Homo sapiens: one gene and its partners. The protein of the gene in region 1 purifies or fractionates together with the protein of each later gene. This does not show direct contact. Each region holds a gene or a part of one and is shown on either strand. Other genes may lie near its edges.

The links.
Region 2: the proteins of PDIA5 (region 1) and CNPY2 purify together in Homo sapiens (affinity purification with mass spectrometry; 2 studies listed by BioGRID and IntAct, with this or other methods). This does not show direct contact.
Region 3: the proteins of PDIA5 (region 1) and ZMPSTE24 fractionate together in Homo sapiens (co-fractionation; one large-scale study listed by BioGRID). This does not show direct contact.
Region 4: the proteins of PDIA5 (region 1) and PPP1R2 fractionate together in Homo sapiens (co-fractionation; one large-scale study listed by BioGRID). This does not show direct contact.

The regions. Positions count from the first base shown.
Region 1 is NC_000003.12:123,069,536-123,074,245, forward strand, and holds part of PDIA5 (protein disulfide-isomerase A5 precursor), read left to right. Parts: intron 1-4,710.
Region 2 is NC_000012.12:56,312,550-56,317,443, reverse strand, and holds the start of CNPY2 (protein canopy homolog 2 isoform 1 precursor), read left to right. Parts: upstream 1-1,455; 5' UTR 1,456-1,623; intron 1,624-2,201; 5' UTR 2,202-2,226; coding exon 2,227-2,314; intron 2,315-2,477; coding exon 2,478-2,593; coding exon of another isoform or gene 2,594-2,644; exon of another isoform or gene 2,645-2,949; intron 2,950-4,894. UniProt on the Homo sapiens protein: Positive regulator of neurite outgrowth by stabilizing myosin regulatory light chain (MRLC). It prevents MIR-mediated MRLC ubiquitination and its subsequent proteasomal degradation.
Region 3 is NC_000001.11:40,256,829-40,261,674, forward strand, and holds the start of ZMPSTE24 (CAAX prenyl protease 1 homolog), read left to right. Parts: upstream 1-1,407; 5' UTR 1,408-1,443; coding exon 1,444-1,566; intron 1,567-4,010; coding exon 4,011-4,157; intron 4,158-4,846. UniProt on the Homo sapiens protein: Transmembrane metalloprotease whose catalytic activity is critical for processing lamin A/LMNA on the inner nuclear membrane and clearing clogged translocons on the endoplasmic reticulum.
Region 4 is NC_000003.12:195,532,687-195,536,876, reverse strand, and holds part of PPP1R2 (protein phosphatase inhibitor 2), read left to right. Parts: intron 1-4,190. UniProt on the Homo sapiens protein: Inhibitor of protein-phosphatase 1.

The sequences.
Region 1 (4,710 bases):
CAAAAGTCCGAAATCAGGGTGCCAGCATGGTTGAATTCTAGTGAGGACCCTCCTCCAGAAGACTCTTGACTTCTCACTGTATTCTCATATGATAGAAAGAAGACTAGACAGTTCTCTTGGGTCCCTTTTTCAAGGGCACTAATCCTATTCATGAGCGATCCACCCTCATGACCTAATTACGTACCAAGGGCCCCACCTCCTAACACCACCACTTTGGGGGTTAGGATTTTAACATATGAATTTTCAGGGGAATGACAGAAATACTCAGTCCTGGCCGGGCACAGTTGCTCACACCTGTAATCCCAGCAGTTTGGGAGGCTGAGGCGGGTGGATCACCTGAGGTCAGGAGTTCGAGACCAGCCTGGCCAACATGGTGAAACCCCGTCTCTACTAAAAATACAAAAATTAGCCAAGCATGGTAGCGGGCGCCTGTAGTCCCAGCTACTCAGAAGGCTGAGGCAGGAGAATCGCTTGAACCCAGGAGGCAGAGGGTGCAGTGGGCTGAGATCGCGCCACTGCACTCCAGCCTGGGGGATGGAGCAAGACTCCATCTCAAAAAAAAAAAAAAAGAAGAAGAAGAAGAAGAAATATTCAGTCCATTGCAATGTTTATAAAGAATATTTTTATTTACCAGAATATTATGTTTATTATGAAAACATTTTATGATGTTTATGAAGAATATCTAAGGATGTGGAAAAATGCCCAAGTGTGATAAGTAAGGGAAAAGCAGGATGTAAAACCAAATCTGAGGGTGGCTGAAGTTACATGTATGAAGAATTAGTGCATCAAAATGTTAACAGTCATTGTTCTGGAAGGTGGAGTTGTGATGACTTCTGCTTCTTTGCTTATGCTTTTCTGTGGATTCCAAGTTTTTCACATGAATATGTATTAGTTTATAATCAGAAAAGTTAATAAAGATTTTTTAAAATGTTGCTTTGGGAACCCTTAGCCTTCCAAAAGAATACTGGGGAGGAAGGTGTCACTGTCAAACACGTGGGACAGGTTAGTTCCAAGAGCTTCCAGGCTGGGTGTCTGTGCCCTCAGAGGCTATGGGTGGCGGTGCCCTCCCTGCCAAGTGCTCCTGGACACAGGGGCAGGAGGTAGCCCTAGGGCACAGGGCGATCCCTGCCGAGCCATGCTGCCCTGCTCCCATCCCTGCGCTGACTGCCTGCTTTCCTGCTGTCCAGCTCAGCTCATCCCTGCAGCTGACTCTTCTCTAGGGCCGTCCATGCTGATTGTCCTGTTGGCTCCATCCAGCCTGTAGGATGGAGAAACGTCGAGCTGGAGTGAACTCTAGGTCTCCTAGCTCAGTGGTTCTCAAGCATTGGGCCAAGGACTGAAGCTGGGCTGGGATAGAGTTTTCTGGTCTGCAGTCAAACTGGAAAAAAAAAATGGTGTATTTTTTTGTTTGTTTGTTTTTCATGAATGCAAATGTTTTCAGTTTAAAAAGTTGTCAATTTTTCTGACATGACGATATTTTGAGGGGGAGGGGGTTACAGCATCCCTTTGAAAAATGAGGCTGGTTGTAGTATATTGTGATTTCTTTTTAAAAGCCCTTTCTTGATAAAATTTATTTTTAATAATATAAAATCCATTTTATATTTAAAAATATATATATTCTGCTGATCTGTGAGATTCAGAACTGATCTAACTCAGCCTTCTCCTTTTATAGGAGAATAGCGAGGCTTAGGGAGGGAAGGGACTCACTCAAGGCCACCCAGTTAGTGAAGGCAGAGCTGGGAGAAGAGCCAGATCTGCTGAATGTAAATCGGGTTCTTCCCACTCATCCATCTCCCGCCTGCTTCTCTGCCTCTGCCCCTGATGGTCGCTTGAAGCTCAGACCCTGGAGGACAGTGGGTGGAGGTGCAGGAGGCAGATGTTTGTTCCTGGCATCTCCTGTAGAGCTTTTAAGGTACACTTATTTAGGTTCTGTACTTCTCTGGGACGATTATATATTTAATAGGCTTTTGTGGGTTGGCCTGAGGACTGAATTGCCATTTAAAATGCTGTTTGGAACCTGTAGTGCACATTTCCCACAGAAATAAACACATTACAGCGGAAGTCTTAAAACAGACCCGGCATATAAGGTGGAAGTGTGGCTGAGTGCCATAAGAGTGGCAGCCCCTGTGTGCTGGGGATCCAGGACGAGGCCAAGCAGTGGGACACCGAGTGATCAGAGAAGGCCCCAGGAAAGAGCAAGGTGTGGACTGGCCTCACAAGGAGGGCAGACTTGGAGCTCTGTGACAGCAGGGAGCCCCCTGTCCTGGCTGTAGTGTCCCCAGCACCTAGCCCAGGGCCTGGCATGTCGTCAGCCCCGGTCCGTGTTTGGCTGATGGAACTAATGTCACAGGCAGAGAAGGAAACCTTCCAAGCCAGAGACATGGGAAATGAGGAATGATAGGCCAGGCTGGATGGAGGGAGGGTTTGAGTCTGGGGATGAGGGGAGTAAGACTGAAAAAGTGGATCGTAAAGAACTTTAAATGCCTGGCAAAGCTGTGGGGGACTCGATTCTGTAGGTAATGGAGAGACTTGATGAAAGCTGCCCTTTTAATAACAAGATCAATCAGGCCGCATGTAGGGTTGGGTGGGAGGGGGAGAGACTAATTTTCCCAGAACAACACTTTCATCCTTACTTTCCTCTCTGTTATCTACAAGATAAATTCAAGTGTTATGTAGTGGAAAGAACATGGGCTTTTAGCCAGCTAGACACTCAGGAGCTGCGTGACCTTGGGCCCTGCCTCAGTTTTCTTGTTTGTTAGTGGTGGTAATGATATCCATCTTGCAGTGTTGAAAGGATTAGAAAAAATACAGGAAGCACCCAACACAGCGCTTGGCACGTGAAAGTGCCCAGTCACTGGGAGTCTCAGCAGTCATTGCCAGTTGTTGAGTAAGAGATGATGGGGAAGGCAGTTAAGAGGAGGAGGTGGGCAAGGAAGGGCCAGAGAGAGGCTGCATGATTTGAATGCCAGGTACGGGTACCCCTGTGCAGCTAGGATTCTCCCCACGGGAGTTACTTGGAGCTGAGCTCTTGACTGCCTCCTTGCCTCCTCTCTGCCAGGCTGCTGCAGAGATCCCAGGTAGGGGGGGTGGTGCAGAAGGGCTCAGGATGTAAGTGTGCTTGGTTTCTCTCCCCTTTCTTCTGAAAGTAGATCCCCTCTTGAGAATGAAGACACCAAACACACTGTATCCCAGGAGGGTTTTGCCCCAGCTTTGTGGTTTTATTCTGTTGGGCTCTTGTGTCTTGCTTGGTGGTTGTGGTAGCCTTTGAGGCTGAGTGACAATGGGCCAGAAATGAATGCATGGGGTATAAGGAGAGGCGGAGGTTCTTCCACATAACCTGGACTTGGGATGGTTTATTTGCCCCCTACCTCTCCTTCTGTGTGTGTGTGTGTGTGTGTGTGTGTGTGTATGTGGTGTTGTTGTTTTTAACACCTGGCATCTTAGGTCCCAACGGGAGAGGGAAGGAGCAGGAGTGCTCAGCCCTGGTGGGCTGGCCCATTCCTTCTGCCTGGCCATCTTTCAGCACTGCCTGGAGCCTCTGGCTCCCCGTGTGATCTGTTGGCAGAATTGTCAAATCGGATGCATTTGTAGAGGGCTTGAGAGTTTGCAAAGCATTTCCACGTATTTCACGACGGTGTGGTTTTGAGCCCCATGTAACTTGGTGAGGTGAGTAGGCTAGCCCAGTACCATCATCCCTGGAGAGGGATGGGTGGCTGGACAGGGAGGTGGGAAGCAACATGTCCTTAGACGAGGTTGAGGTGTCTGTGGCCTGGAAGATGAAGGCATAAAGAGATAGGTGGGGACCACAGTCAGAGTTCTCAGTGCCTGGCTTGAATGTGTAAGCAGCTGCGTTGGCAGCCATTTTCCAGGAGTGTCCCTGAAACTTGCTTTTCAGCTGCTCCCTGGTGGCTTTGGCATTGGACAGGGGTGGCCAGCCAGGTACATGCTGACTGTATCCTTCCCCCAAGGAGCTCCAGTTCACTGTCCCCTATTGCCACCCTACATCAGCAGGGCCTCTTTCCACATACCAGTTTGCAACCACTTCTAAATAATTAGCTTTGTGATCTTACATTGGGGGGTTGAAGACACTCATGGAGTGTGGGGTTAAAAGAGCCTTTATTCCTCAAAGTCATACTGAGGCCCCAGTCTGATGCACATTCCATTCCTAGATGGTGTGATGGTGGGCCTGTGTCTGGCTTCAGAGTTTCCAGCTCACTAGAGTTGCGGGGGCGCAAGGGTGGAGTGTCCATTCCCTGCAAAGAATCCTACAGTTCCTCCAACCCCTTGGCGCAGGCAGATTTCTGGAAGTCGTGAGCAGGTCCTTTAATCCTTGTTGGAAGATGTTGATGAAAATCAAGGTTGAGGGTTGTAAACTGGGGCTTAAACATAAAGGTGATCCAGTATCTGAGCCCAGATGTGGGCCTGGTAGGAAAGCTCTGTTGTTTGGGCCAAGTAGGGAAGGGTCTTGAGGAACGAGTGGGTTTGTTCTCATCACAGGGTCTAGTCTTACTGGGTCCTGGGCAGAGTATTAGTACATGCCCCTATTTCAAAGGAAGGTGGACCAACATCAGCATCCTACATGTGCCACAGATGTTCATTCATTCAACAGATACTTCTTTTTTTTCCCAAATGGATATTTCCTTGAGAATCTTTTATGAGCCAGGCCTCATGCTAAGGCATTGGGGATAACCATAAATAAGACAGACACCA
Region 2 (4,894 bases), on another chromosome or scaffold:
TTGTTGCAAAGGTTCTAGGAGCCAGATTCATTCCTTCTTCATTCTTTGCAAAACAGTGGTACAGACATGGAGTCTAGAATTGACCCAGATGGAAAGTAATTGGTATTCTTAATATCCTGGGTGACTAATATCCAGGCAGAGAAGCTCCTGGAACCATAACTGTAAGTTCCTAGCTGGCTAGGGATTGAAGTCCTGGACAGTGACAGAGGATACCACAGTAGTTCAAGACTTAGCACAAGTCACCAACTGCTTCAGGGATACCTGGAGGGGCCAGCAAGTAGAGTGTTGGTGGCCCAAGCAAACCAGTGTTGCCAATACCATTGCCAAAAGGGCCTTTGGATCCTGGACAAAGCTTGGCTGCCGGCTTCATTTATTCCTGCTGATGGCTGAGAAGCATCTGTCTTCCATCCCACTTGCCTGTCCCAAGTTTTGTTCCATTTTTTAAAAATTTGTTGTAAACTGCATGTTTTATAAAATAAAAATAAAATATCGTTTGTTATTTATCTCATTAGAGAACTGCTAGTGTGGGTTCTCTGGCTTCAGTCTTCCTCTCCTTCCTTTGAAGGTAAAGGTCCGGAATCCAAAGTTATGGATATGAAAGGGTATAATTAGGCCGGGCGCGGTGGCTCACTTCTGTAATCCTAGCACTTTGGGAGGCAGAGGTGGGTGGAACACGAGGTCAGGAGTTAAAGACCAGCCTGACCAAGATGGTGAAACCCCGTCTCTACTAAAAATACAAAAATTAGCTGGGAGTGGTGGATGGCGACTGTAACCCTAGCTGAGGCAGAAAATTGCTTCAACCCGGGAGGCGGAGGTTGCAGTGAGCCGAGATCACGCCACTGTATGCCAGCCTGGGCGATAGGGCGAGACTCCGTCTCAAAAAAAGGGGAAAAAGGTATAATTTATGCCTTTTCTGGGCAATGCTGGGTCTTTGCTATAGCTGCCCAGTACCCTAAGTCAGACTGAAGATGTACAGTATGGTTTCCGTTAATTGTGTAAGCCGACAAACTACAGGTCCCAGGATAGCTTGAGACTTGTAGTTGCTCACAAAGATGGGTCCGGTGCTGCGGTGCTTCCTGGGAGATGTAGTTTCCTGTGTATTGAAACCTGGACTGCTCGCTGGCCGGCAGCGCACCGTTTTGAAGGTCCTAGCCCACCTGGGCTGGCTCACGCGCACGACTAGCCGCTCCCATACAGCACGCCCGGACTCTGTCGTCGCTTAAGGCCACTCCTATTCTACGGCTGACCCCTGGTGGTCACGTGGATCTGTTCGCCACGCAAGTCTGGGTCCTTCGGCGATTGACCGGGGTCCTTGCTGTTCGGGAGCCTCTCCTAAGCTGCCTGTTCGCGCGAGAGTTTGGAGGGGCGGGTTTGGGGTCGGTGTCTGATTGGGGCTCGCACCGCAGCACGCTGGAGTCCCGCTTAGGTACCAGTTAGCGTCAGGGGAGCTGGGTCAGGCGGTCGCCGGGACACCCCGTGTGTGGCAGGCGGCGAAGCGCTCTGGAGAATCCCGGACAGCCCTGCTCCCTGCAGCCAGGTGTAGTTTCGGGAGCCACTGGGGCCAAAGTGAGAGTCCAGCGGTCTTCCAGCGCTTGGGCCACGGCGGCGGCCCTGGGAGCAGAGGTGGGACGGATGCGGGCGGCGAGGCGCTGGGCGCTGAGGGTTGGGGATGGACTGAAGCGAAAGCAATGGCGGAGTCCTTAGAAAGGGGGCTGGTGTCCGTACGGGTAATCACTTACGGGCTGGAGGTGGGGACGCAGGAATCTTCGGTGCAGGATCCAAATGGGCCCTAGTTATTGCTCTCCTCGCTGGCCTCCTGGCCTGACTGAGGGCTCCCTGCCGGCAGTTCCCTAGTGCCTGTAGTCCTCACGTAATCGCCAACTTACCTCCTGTAGCTGCCACAAAGCCCCGTGAACCCTAGGCATGCAGTGCTAAAGTACCAACACTTAGGGCCTCACCTATCCACGTAGAGTCTGGGGCTGAGCCGCAAGTCCTGAGCTCGCGCTCCCACCCACCACCCTGGGGGAATCAGAGCCCTCAAGCGCTGGAACAGAGAAGCCCCTTTGTGTCCCGGCCATTTCCTGGAAAGTAGAGCCAGAGTCACAATGAGGCCTTTGAAAGCCTTGGGGTGAGGATTGGGGGGGTCAGGGAAAAATGGAGTCGGCTCCTCACACTTATGTTTTATTCCCACTCAAACCCAGGTGGAGCGACCCCATTACGCTAAAGATGAAAGGCTGGGGTTGGCTGGCCCTGCTTCTGGGGGCCCTGCTGGGAACCGCCTGGGCTCGGAGGAGCCAGGATCTCCACTGTGGAGGTAAAGGCACAACGGGAAAAAGAAGTGGAGGAAGCAGAGCCTTGGGAGGGCATGAGATCCAAGGCCTGGGAGAAGGATGAATGGAAATCCTGGGTTGATCCCATTCTCCTCACACCCTACCCCCTACCCTGTCCCCTGCTCTCATTCTCTCCTCTTCCACCAGCATGCAGGGCTCTGGTGGATGAACTAGAATGGGAAATTGCCCAGGTGGACCCCAAGAAGACCATTCAGATGGGATCTTTCCGGATCAATCCAGATGGCAGCCAGTCAGTGGTGGAGGTAACTGTTACTGTTCCCCCAAACAAAGTAGCTCACTCTGGCTTTGGATGAAATTCGACTGCTTAAAAAGGACCTTGGTTTAATAGAAATGAAGAAAACAGACTCAGAAAAAAGATTTGGCTCTGTCTCATTTGGAAGAAGCTGCAGGCTTATTCCCCATGCACTTGCTTCCTGGCTGCAAACCTTAATACTTTGTTTCTGCTGTAGAATTTGTTAGCAAACAGGGAGTCCTGATCAGCACCCTTCTCCACATCCACATGACTGGTTTTTAATGTAGCACTGTGGTATACATGCAAACATCCGTTCAAAATCTGAGTCGGAGCTAAAAATAAAAAATGAAAAAACAGAAATAAGAATAAAAGGTCTTATCCTCATAATTAGGAAATTTTAATCGAAAACAACACACATGTACACAAAGGTGTATCTAATAAGCAATATATAAGGCAGTGTTAAGATTACAGTGCTAGCCTGGGCATCATGGCAAAACACCAACTCTACAAAAAAATGCAAAAGTTAGCAGTGCATGGTGGCATGTGCCTGTAGTGACAGCTGCTTGGAAGGCTGAGGTGGGAGGATCACTTGAGCCCAGGAGGTCGAGGCTGCAGTAAGCCGTGATTGTGCCACTGCACTCCAGCCTGGGAAACACAGCAAGACCCTGTCTCAAAAAAAAACCAAAACCCAGCACTTTGGGAGGCCAAGGCAGGCGGATCACCTGAGGTTAGAAGTTCGAGACCAGCCTGGCCAACATGGTGAAACTCCGTCTCTACTAAAAATACAAAAAAGTAGCCAGGCGTGGTGGCTCATGCCTATAGTCCCAGCTACTCAGGAGGCTGAGGCAGGAGAATCACTTGAACCCAGGAGGCAGAGGTTGCAGTGAGCCAAGATCGCACCACTGCACTCCAGTCTGGTTGACAAGAACAAAACTCTGTCTTGAAAAAAAAAAAAGGCCGGGCGCGGTGGCTCACGCCCGTAATGCCAGCACTTTGGGAGGCTGAGGTGGGCAGATCACAAGGTCAGGAGATCGAAACCATCCTGGCTAACATGGTGAAACCCCGTCTCTACTAAAAATACAAAAAATTAGCCGGGCGTGGTGGTGGGTGCCTGTAGTCCCAGCTACTCAGGAGGCTGAGACGAAAAGAATGGCGTGAACTCGGGAGGCAGAGCTTGCAGTGAGCTGAGATGGTGCCACTGCACTCTAGCCTGGGCGACACAGCGAGACTCCTCTCAAAAAAAAAAAAAGAAAAGAAAAAAGATTATGGTACTTTAATAGCTGTTGTTCACAGAGCCTACACTACATCTTTAATACTGTGCTTACTGAGGATATTAGTCTCAATTTAAACAAAATTATTATTATTTTTTTGAGATGGAGTTTAGGGCTTGTTGCCCAGGCTGGAGTGCAATGACACGATCTCGGCTCACCGCAACCTCTGCCTCCCGGGTTCAAGCGATTCTCCTGCCTCAGCCTCCCGAGTAGCTGGGATTACAGGCATGCACCACCACACCTGGATAATTTTGTATTTTTAGTAGAGACAGGGTTTCTCCATGTTGGTCAGGATGGTCTCGAACTCCTGACCTCAAGTGAGCCACCCTCCTCGGCCTCTCAAAGTGCTGGGATTACAGGCGTGAGCCACCACGCCCGGCCAAAAATAAAATATTAATGAACACATGGACACAGGGAGGGGAACGTCACACATCAGGTCCTGTTGGGGTGTTGGGGGCTAGGGGAGGGATAGCATTAGGAGAAATACCTAATGTAGATGACAGGTTGATGGGTGTAGCAAACCACCATGGCACATGTATACCTATGCAACAAACCTGCACGTTCTGCACATGTATCTCAGAACTTAAACTATAATTTAAAAAAAAATTATCTTCATCTATAGAAATTAGAAGTATAAGTTGATCAGGTTAATCAAAAAATTCTGTTTATAACTTGGAGCTAATGTTAACTGTCTTGTTTCTTAGAATTGTACAATGAGGTGCCGGGCACGGTGGTTCATGCCTGTAGTCCCAGCACTTTGGGAGGCTGAGGCGGGTGGATTACCTGAAGTTGGGAGTTTGAGACCAGCCTGACCAACATGGAGAAACCCCGTCTCTACTAAAAATACAAAATTAGCTGGGCGTGGTGGCACATGCCTGTAATCCCAACTACTCGGGAAGCTGAGGCAGGAGAATCACTTGAACCCGGGAGGTGGAGCTTGCGGTGAGCCGAGATCGCGCCATTGCACTCCAGCCTGGGCAACAAGAGTGAAACTCCATCTCAAAAAAAAAAAGAAAAAAAAAAAGAATTGTACAATGAGG
Region 3 (4,846 bases), on another chromosome or scaffold:
TTCACAGATACAAGTGCTGAGAAATGGTTTTACATAAATAGGTGAGAATGCTAGTAGTTTTGTTGTAAGCATGTCAATCAATCGTTTGGTTTCTTTCCGAGTTGCATGCCAAAAACCAAATAGTGTTCCTTCATCAGCTGACAATTCATGGGCCACCATTAATTTTGTTGAAAGCAAAGAACTGGAAACCATCTGACTTGAAAAGAATTTGTTATCCTGTTATTAGAGTCATTCACTTTCTCTAGTGACTTTTAATTATACTAATTACTCTCAGAGGCATTTAGGCAGGGTTGAGAAATTCAAGATATTAATTTCAACACATCTTTAGCATCACAATATCACAGTAATTTAAATATATTTTAGTTGTAGCTATTTAGCTCACTTTATTGTAAATAATAATTATGCTAATTAGCAACGATAGTATGTTTAACCAATTAATCATCAGATTAACTTTCGGTCAGAATAATGGACTTCAATTTTTAAGTCAAAGCAATGTACAGGCGTCCCAGTCACCATATTTCACTTCTGAATTCCAAGAGAGAAATGGCGTTGCGCCTTACTGACGCAAATATGTACCTAGATAAAGTAAGACGCTTTCATTTCAGGTATGTCTAACCCACGCTATCCTTGCTTTGTTCCAGGGCACTCTCGCAGGGAAAACGCCGCCTCTGACTACACTTGGGGTGGTTAAGACGAGATCTTCAAATGAAAATTCTCAACGCTACCGTCCACTCTCTCATACGCTTGAATTCCGAACACCCCAATACTGGCCAAAAGACTCCATTTCTCATGCTTGGTCTTGCTTTTGAGGTAGCTCTAACTCAGAGGCACGATTTTTAGAGCCTGGGAAGTCGGCTGCTGTTCAGTCCTTCCTAGCCTCCTCAGGCGGGAGCCGCGGCCCACTCAGTCAGTTGCGGCCCACTCAGTCAGTTCCGGCCCCAGCCCCGACTACCTGTCGCCTTGTTGGGGGAAGGAAGGCAGATACCGCAGCCCAGTCAGGGTAAGCCGCTGACCCAGAGGATGGAACTGCGGCTCTGGAGATTAGAAAGAGGAGGACTTCGCCGCGTTCACTAGCCCAGGAGGAAAGCCAGAACCCTAGGCCGGAACCCAGCGTCAAGACGTGGGGGAAGAATGTTGATGCAACACAGCTCAGCCGGGCCCGGAACTCGGCGTTTGGGTCCCCGCCCTCTTTGGGCCGGAAGTGAGGAAGGTGGGGCTGGGGCTTTTCCTGTAGAAACTAGGAGGGACTAGGGAGAGTCTGCAAGGGGAAGAGTGTGTCTGTGACACTGCCAGCAGCGCGCAGAGGGAGGGATGGGGGCGGGTATCGGCGTAGGGGCCCTCGGAAAGAACGGATATTGCTGTGACACCGCGGGGACGCTCTGAAGGGACGAGTGTCGGTGTGGCACCGGTGCACGCTGAAGGAGCCGGCGGAACCGGGTGGCCATGGGGATGTGGGCATCGCTGGACGCTTTGTGGGAGATGCCGGCCGAGAAGCGTATCTTCGGGGCCGTGCTGCTCTTTTCCTGGACAGTGTATCTTTGGGAGACCTTCCTAGCACAGCGGCAGGTGAGCCTAGACAGGGTCCAACCTGACCCCCATACCCGGCCAGCCCTGGAGTAGCCTTGGCTTCGACCCTGAGACTCTTGATTGCTTCGGTCCCCGCGCCAGTCTCGTCTTTGTGGTCCCTGCTGAGTCTCGTAACTTGGCCCGATGGCGGACTGTGGCTTTGAGGAGGGTCTTGGTGCGTCAAGGAAGTTTTCTGTAACGTTATCATGGGACCCAATCCCTTTAGGGCCTGGAGGAAGGCTTGGGCTCTTGTGCCCTCCCTGCAGCTTCCTTGGGATCCTTGGGCCCAGACTTGGCCTCCTTTATCTTTGGAATAAGCCTTTAAAAGGATTTAGACACCCAACTTCCTCATGACATTTATGTAATCATGCCTAACCATAGGATTTTGCAGTCCTTCCAAGAACTTGCACTCTTGTTTCTCCTTAAAGTGCATATATTGTTTCTGCTTGAAAAAACAAACAAACAAACAAAAAACTTATCGGGCCCGGCGTGGTGTCTCATGCCTGTAATCCCAGCACTTTGGGAGGCCGAGGCGGGCGGATCACCTGGGGTCAGGAGTTCGAGACCAGCCTGACCAACGTGGCGAAAACCCGTCTCTACTAAAAATAGAAAAATTAGCCGGGTGTGGTGGCGCGCACCTGTAGTCCCAGCTACTTGGGAGGCTGAGGCAGGAGAATCATTTGAACCCAGTAGGCGGAGGTTGCAGTGAGCTGAGATTGTGCCACTGCACTCCAGCCTGGGCGACAAGAGTGAAACTCAATCTCAAAATAAATAAATAAATGAAATTAAATGAAATATATTTCTCGTTTTTCATAAAATCAACATTATTTTAGTTTAAATATTAAAATGGTAAAATAAAAAGTGAAAGTTAACAATTTACCTGAGATAACCATGGTTTAGAGATCTGAACTTTTATTTATTTATTTTTAATCTTTATTTATTTATTTAATTTTAGAGTCTAGCTCTGTCACCAGGCTGGAGTACAGTGGCGTTATCTCGGCTCACTGCAAGAAACTAGGAGGGACGAGGGAGAGTCTGCAAGGGGAAGAGTGTGTCTGTGACACTGCCAGCAGCGCGCAGAGGGAGGGATGTTCAAATGATTCTCCTGCCTCAGCATCCCGAGTAGCTAGGATTACAGGCACGTGCCACCACGCCCAGCTAATTTTAGTATTTTTAGTAGAGACGGGGTTTCACCATCTTGGCCAGGATAGAATATTTATTGTATTTAGAGACAGGGGCTCACTCTGCCACCCAGACTGGAGCACAGTAGCATCATCATAGCTCAAGGCAGCCTCGAACTCGTGGGCTCAAACGACCCCTCCACCTCCACCTCAGCCTTCTGAGTTGCTAGGACCACAGGTGCGGATCACTGTGCCTGGCTAATTGTTTGATTTTTTTGTAGAGATGTTGCCCGGGGTGGTCTGGAGTTCCTGGACTCAAGTCATCTTGCCGCCTCCACCTCCCAAAGGGCTGGGATTACAGGCATGAGCCACCGTGCTCGATCTCCCCTCAGCTTTTATTGGCACACAACAATATATAGGGAAAGCATGTTGTAGTGGCCCATTATTTTGTTTGGTATCCATTCTCTGTATTACATTTCCTGGACTGAAATTACCCTTACCTTTTATAATTTAGTATAATGAGATAGTTGATCTTTCTCCTTTTTTTTTTTTTTTTTTTTTTTTAAGGAGATAGATTCTCTGTCACCCAGGGTGTAGTGCTGTGGCACAATATGGGCTTACTGCAACCTCTGCCTCCCAGGCTCAAGTGATCCTCCCACCTCAGCCCCCCAAATAGCTGGGACCACAGGTGCATACCACCACACTCTGCTAATTTTTGTATTTTTTGTAGAGACGGGATTTCACCACATTGCTCAGGCCAGTCTTGAACTCCTGGGCTCAAGGAATCCTTCTGCCCCTGTCTTCCAAACTGCTGGGATTACAGGCGTGACCCACCGTGCCCGGCTGAAAATTGGTCTTTTCTCACAGACCTGATATGTTTCCATCTGGTGATCCTCAAGTTTCTGGCATTTAGGACCAAATTTAATGAGCAGCCTCAGTATCTGTTCATACTCACAGTTAGCATGTGTGCTTCTCCTTTGCATGAATTTGTTTTCCGTATTATAGGAGGTATGTAATACCCAGAATGAGTAGTACATGTAACAAAGTTGTGATGTTAACAGCTTTGGTTTACATATACAAACTGAAGTGTGATGACAACCCTGATTATAGTTTTACCAGTCAGGTCACCTCAGGTTCTCTTGTTCTGCTTTTATTTTCCTGCATCAGTCGTTTCATGTACTTGATCAAGTGCAATATTTGTGTAGGTATAAAGCAAATTCAACAGATATAAGTGGCAAGCTATAAACCATTCGATGTTTGATCATAAATGACTATTGTAATAAACAACTATTTCACTAAAGTGTTTTCTTTAAAATATTTCAGAGAAGGATATATAAAACAACAACTCATGTACCACCGGAGTTAGGACAGATCATGGATTCTGAAACATTTGAGAAATCTCGACTCTATCAACTGGATAAAAGCACTTTCAGCTTCTGGTCAGGACTCTATTCAGAGACTGAAGGCACTGTGAGTAATTTACTTCTTGGAGAGACAGTCTGTCTGGTTGTTTTCATTTTCATATTTTTGTAACACAAAAGAGGGTACCACACTTACAAGTCCCAGAATGCTTTCTTAACCTTTGTTATTGATAGTAACGGCTGTGGAGCAAAAAAGACAGAAACATAACTGCTTAGTCAGTTGAAAACTATAGAATATGGGAACTATTACCCTGAAGCCAGGTAGGAAAAAGATCCTCTTCCATTAGGATCCAGCTGAGATGTCATGTCTTCTAAGCAACCATTTGAAACTCCCTGCCTGACGAATGTGGATAGGGTAGCATTCTATCATTATTCCTGTCAGAGTACTTATCTCATTATGTTGAATTTGCCTGGATTTTTTTTTTTTTCTTCTGGCACAGTCTTGCTCTGTCACCCAGGCTGAAGTACAGTGGCGTGATCTTGGCTCACTGCAACCTCTGCTTCCTAGGCGCAAATGATCCTCCCACCTCAGCCTCCCGAGTAGTTGGGACTACAGTTGCATGCCACCATACCGTCTCAGAGTGCTGGGATTATAGGCATGAGCCACACTGTACCTGGCCTGATTTGACTGTTTAATTGGCAGACTGGTAGTTCCTTAAAGAAATAGTTAAGTCTTGTTCATCATTTTATACCTAGTGCCTGGCATGTAATCAGCATATAGTTCCTATTTATTGAATG
Region 4 (4,190 bases), about 72 Mb from region 1:
ACTCCAGAGGTCTTTCCTCATTCTTTTTTTTATCCTAAGCAACGATGATCAGTTGTCGTCGTTGTCTTTTTTTTTTTTTTTTTTTTTTGAGACGGAGTTTCGCTCTTGTCGCCCAGGCTGGAGCACAATGGTGCAATCTCAGCTCACGGCAACCTTTGCCTCCTGGGTGCAAGTGATTCTCCAGCCTCAGCCCCCTGAGTAGCTGGGATTACAGGCATGCGCCACCAAGCATGGCTAATTTTTGTATTTTAGTAGAGACAGGGCTTCATCATGTTGGCCGGGCTGGTCTTGAACTCCTGACTTCAGGTGATCTGCCCACCTCCTAAATTGTCATTTTTAATTCAATATTGTTAACATCACTTAGGAAGTAACTTGTTTTACTTTGAGATTAACAGGCACCCCCAAACAACATTATTAATATGTGTTTATTTTTAAAATATTTTATTACAGTGTAATATACATACAGAAAAGCATATTAAGTATAAATTTAAAGTGTCAGAAATTATTGCTAAAGCACACACTGGCTGGGTGCGGTGTCTCACACCTATAATCCCAGCACTTTTTTTTTTTTTTTTTTTTTTTTAAAGACAGGGTCTCGCTATGTTGCCCAGGTTGATCTCAAACTCCTGGGCTCAGGTGATCCTCCCACTTTGGCCTCCCAAAGTGTTGGGATTTATAGGCATGAGCCACTGTGCCCAGCCCCCCAAAACTTAACTACTGGTAGCCTCCTGTTGACTGAAAGCCTTACAGGTAATATAAACAATTGATTAACTACATGTTTTGTATGTTACAAGTATTATGTTACTGCGTTCTTATAATACAGTAAGCTAGAGAAAAGAAAATGTTAAAATCGTAAGGAAGTGGATCATCATAAAGATCTTTATCCTGGTGGTCTTTCACATTGAGCAGGCTGAGGAGGAGGAGGGGTTGGTCTCACTGTCTTGGGTGATAAAGGCGATAGAAGGAGAGGCAGGCTCACTTGGTGTAACTTTACAAAAATACATCATAATTTATGCCTAACTTTTGTGCTTTTTCGTTTCTCTTAAGATGCTTCTATGTGGTACTAATAATCTTCCTTCTACTGTTTAGTTTCAGTGTCCATATCATAAAAGCGTCCATGTTGTAAAATAAGCCAAGCAGTCTCAAATAGAACTCTTGGTCAGATTGTCTAGTGTCAATTTGTTTCCTGGCTTTGCTTCTTCTACATATTCTTCCGTATCCTCTGGCACTGATTCAGAAGCACTCATCTCTATCAAATCATCTTCTGTTAATTCCTCTGGTGTGATGTCTGTTAGCTCTTGAATTTCAGGATCCATATCTTGAAACCCTTCACCCCCACCAAATAATCCACAATCTCATTAGTTCCTTGATTGGCACTGTCGTAAATCCCGTGAAGTCATGCGTAACATCTGGATACAGTTTTCTCGAGCAGGAATTCATTGTTTGAGACTTGACAGCTTTCTTAGCTTTTTCTGTAACAACAATGGCATACACAGTGGTGAAACCCTTCCAGACTTTCATGATGTTCTCCATGAGGGTTGACAGTCTTTTCCATAGAGCAAGGATCCCCACACCCCAGGCCACGTGGCAGGTGCCTGAGCTCCACCTCCTGTCAGATCAATGGTGACATTAGATTCTCATAGGAGTGTGAACCCTATTGTGAACTGTGCATGCGCGGGCTCTAGGTCGCCCACTCCTTATGAGAGTCTAATGCCTGATGATCTGAGGTGGAACAGTTTCATCCTGAAACCTTCCCACCCGACCCCACACCACGCAAAAGTTGTCTTTCCCGAAACCGCTCACTGGTGCTAAAAAGGTTGGGGACCACTGCGTAGAGTGCCATGTGTGCTGAATCTTAAAGGTCCTCTGTGACCCCCGATCTAGAGGTTAAATTGGAGATGTTGTGTTTGAGGACGAGTAAACCACCTTGACACCTTTATAGGGTTGAACTCATAGGGTTCATAGGTGGCCAAAGAGAGACATTGTCCAGAATCAAAACAACTTTAAAAGGTACTTTACTGCCAGGCACGTGGCTTGAGCCTGCAGCCCTAGCTGCTCAGGTGGCTGACACAGTCACATCACTTAAGCCCAGGAGTTCGAGGCTGCAGTGAGCTATGATTGTGCCACTGCACTCCAGCCTGGGCGATGGAGTAATGCCCTATCTCTCTTTTTTTTTTAAAAGCAGTTCTGTATTGGCAAGGTACTTCCTTACCCTGGGGACAGAACATGGACGGAACCAGGAGGGTTCTCGTTGTCCAGACCTTCTACAACCACAAGACTGGCAGCTGGTGTTTATCTTTTCCCTTCAAGGCTCCGGGGTTAGCAGCTTTATAGTTAAGGACAGTTCTGATCATAAACCCTACTGCATTGGCACAAGACAGTAGAGTTAGCCTGTCCCTTCCTGCCTTAAATCCTGATGCTTGCTTCTCTTTTCTTATAAATAAATGTCCTTTGTGGCATTTTTTTCCCCAGAATCAGGCACTTTTATTCTCATTAAAAACCTGTACAGGCAGATCAGATGTCCTTTCTCCTTAATAATTTTTTCTTTTTCTGGACAGTCTCACTTTGCCACCCAGGCTGGATTACAGTGGCTCGATTGCAGATGGCTCACTGCAGCCTTGACCTCCTGGGCTCAGGTGATCCTCCCACTTCAGGCCACCCCCAAGTAGCTGGGACTGCAGGTGTGTGTGTGCCATCATGCCTGGCTAATTTTAAAAATTTTTTGTAGAGATAGTGTCTCACTATGGTTGCCCAAGCTGTTCTCAAACTCCTGGGCTCAAGAGATCCTCCTGCCTCAGCCTCCCAAAGTGTGGGATTACAGGTGTGAGCCATTGCACCTGGCCCTTTCTCATTAGTGATTTTCTTAATGGCCTCTGGGAACTCGTCTGCAGCCTGTTGGTTGGCAGAAGCTGCTTCTCTGTTATCTTGTAATTTTAAAGCCAAACCTCTTTCTAAAATTATCAAACCATTGTTTGCTCGCATTAAATTCTCCAACTTTAGATTCTTCACCTTCTTTTTGCTTTAAGTTATCATATAGTGACATCATTTTTTCTCAAATCATATTAGAGTCTATAGTCTTGTACAATCCTGCACTCACATAAAAGATGCATCGGCAATACAAAAGGCACTTCACAAAATATGCAAGGTTTTCATGCTGGTATCGCTACTGCAGTGACAGCTTTGTGAATTTCCTTTTATTTGATTTTATTTTTACAATGGTCTTTATGGTGGATTCATGTTTAAATGATGGGCAGCCGCAGTTGCAGAGCTCCATCTAAGGTACTCATCAAGCGTTCTACTTTTTCTTGTAATGTCACAACTTTGCTTCTTGGGAATGCTTCCAGCATCTCTAGTGGCATTTTGTATGACTCCCATGGTGTTACTCAAGGTTTACAATATTGCACTAAATAGGATAAAAAATACTCAAAAACCAAGACAGATCACTTTTTATTGCAACAGGCAATTTACTGGAGCAACAAACTACTCACACTGAAACAACTAGCATCATAGAGCTTTTTTTTTTTTTTTTCCTGAGGCAGAGTCTTACTCTGTTGCCCAGGCTGGAGTGCAGTGGCATGATCTCTGCTCACTGCAACCCCTGCCTCCCGGGTTCAAGTGATTCTTCTGCATCAGCCTCCTGAGTAGCTAGGACTACAAGCGCAAGCCACCATGCCTAATTTTTTTGTATTTTTGGTAGAGACGGGGTTTCACCATGTTGGCTAGGCTGGTCTCGAGCGCCTAACCTCAAGTGATCCACCTGCCTCAGCCTCCCAAAGTGCTGGGATTACAGACGTGCCTGGCCGCATCATAGAGCATTTTAAGCAAACTTGCAACACTTGAGGAGACTGCAGTAGCAACAAGAGATAGCTGTGAAACTGTGACATAGAATAGTATGTACTGTAGTTAATTTTATGCAGTTATGATCCAACTGCAGATCCAACACCATGTGTTGTATGTGCATGTTTTGATAAATTTTAACGTTACATTTTAACTAGGCTTGTGAATATTTTATGGTAGTAAATGATAAAGTAGACTATTCTCTATGTATAATGCACTTATGACATAACTAACTTTTAAGGTTTTTTTAAATATTTCTGGGCTATGTGGTTTATCTGAGTTTCTTCAAATTGTCACAAGCCTCCAAAAAAATTTCCAGTAGATTTGTTGAAAAAAAATCCGCATATAAGTGG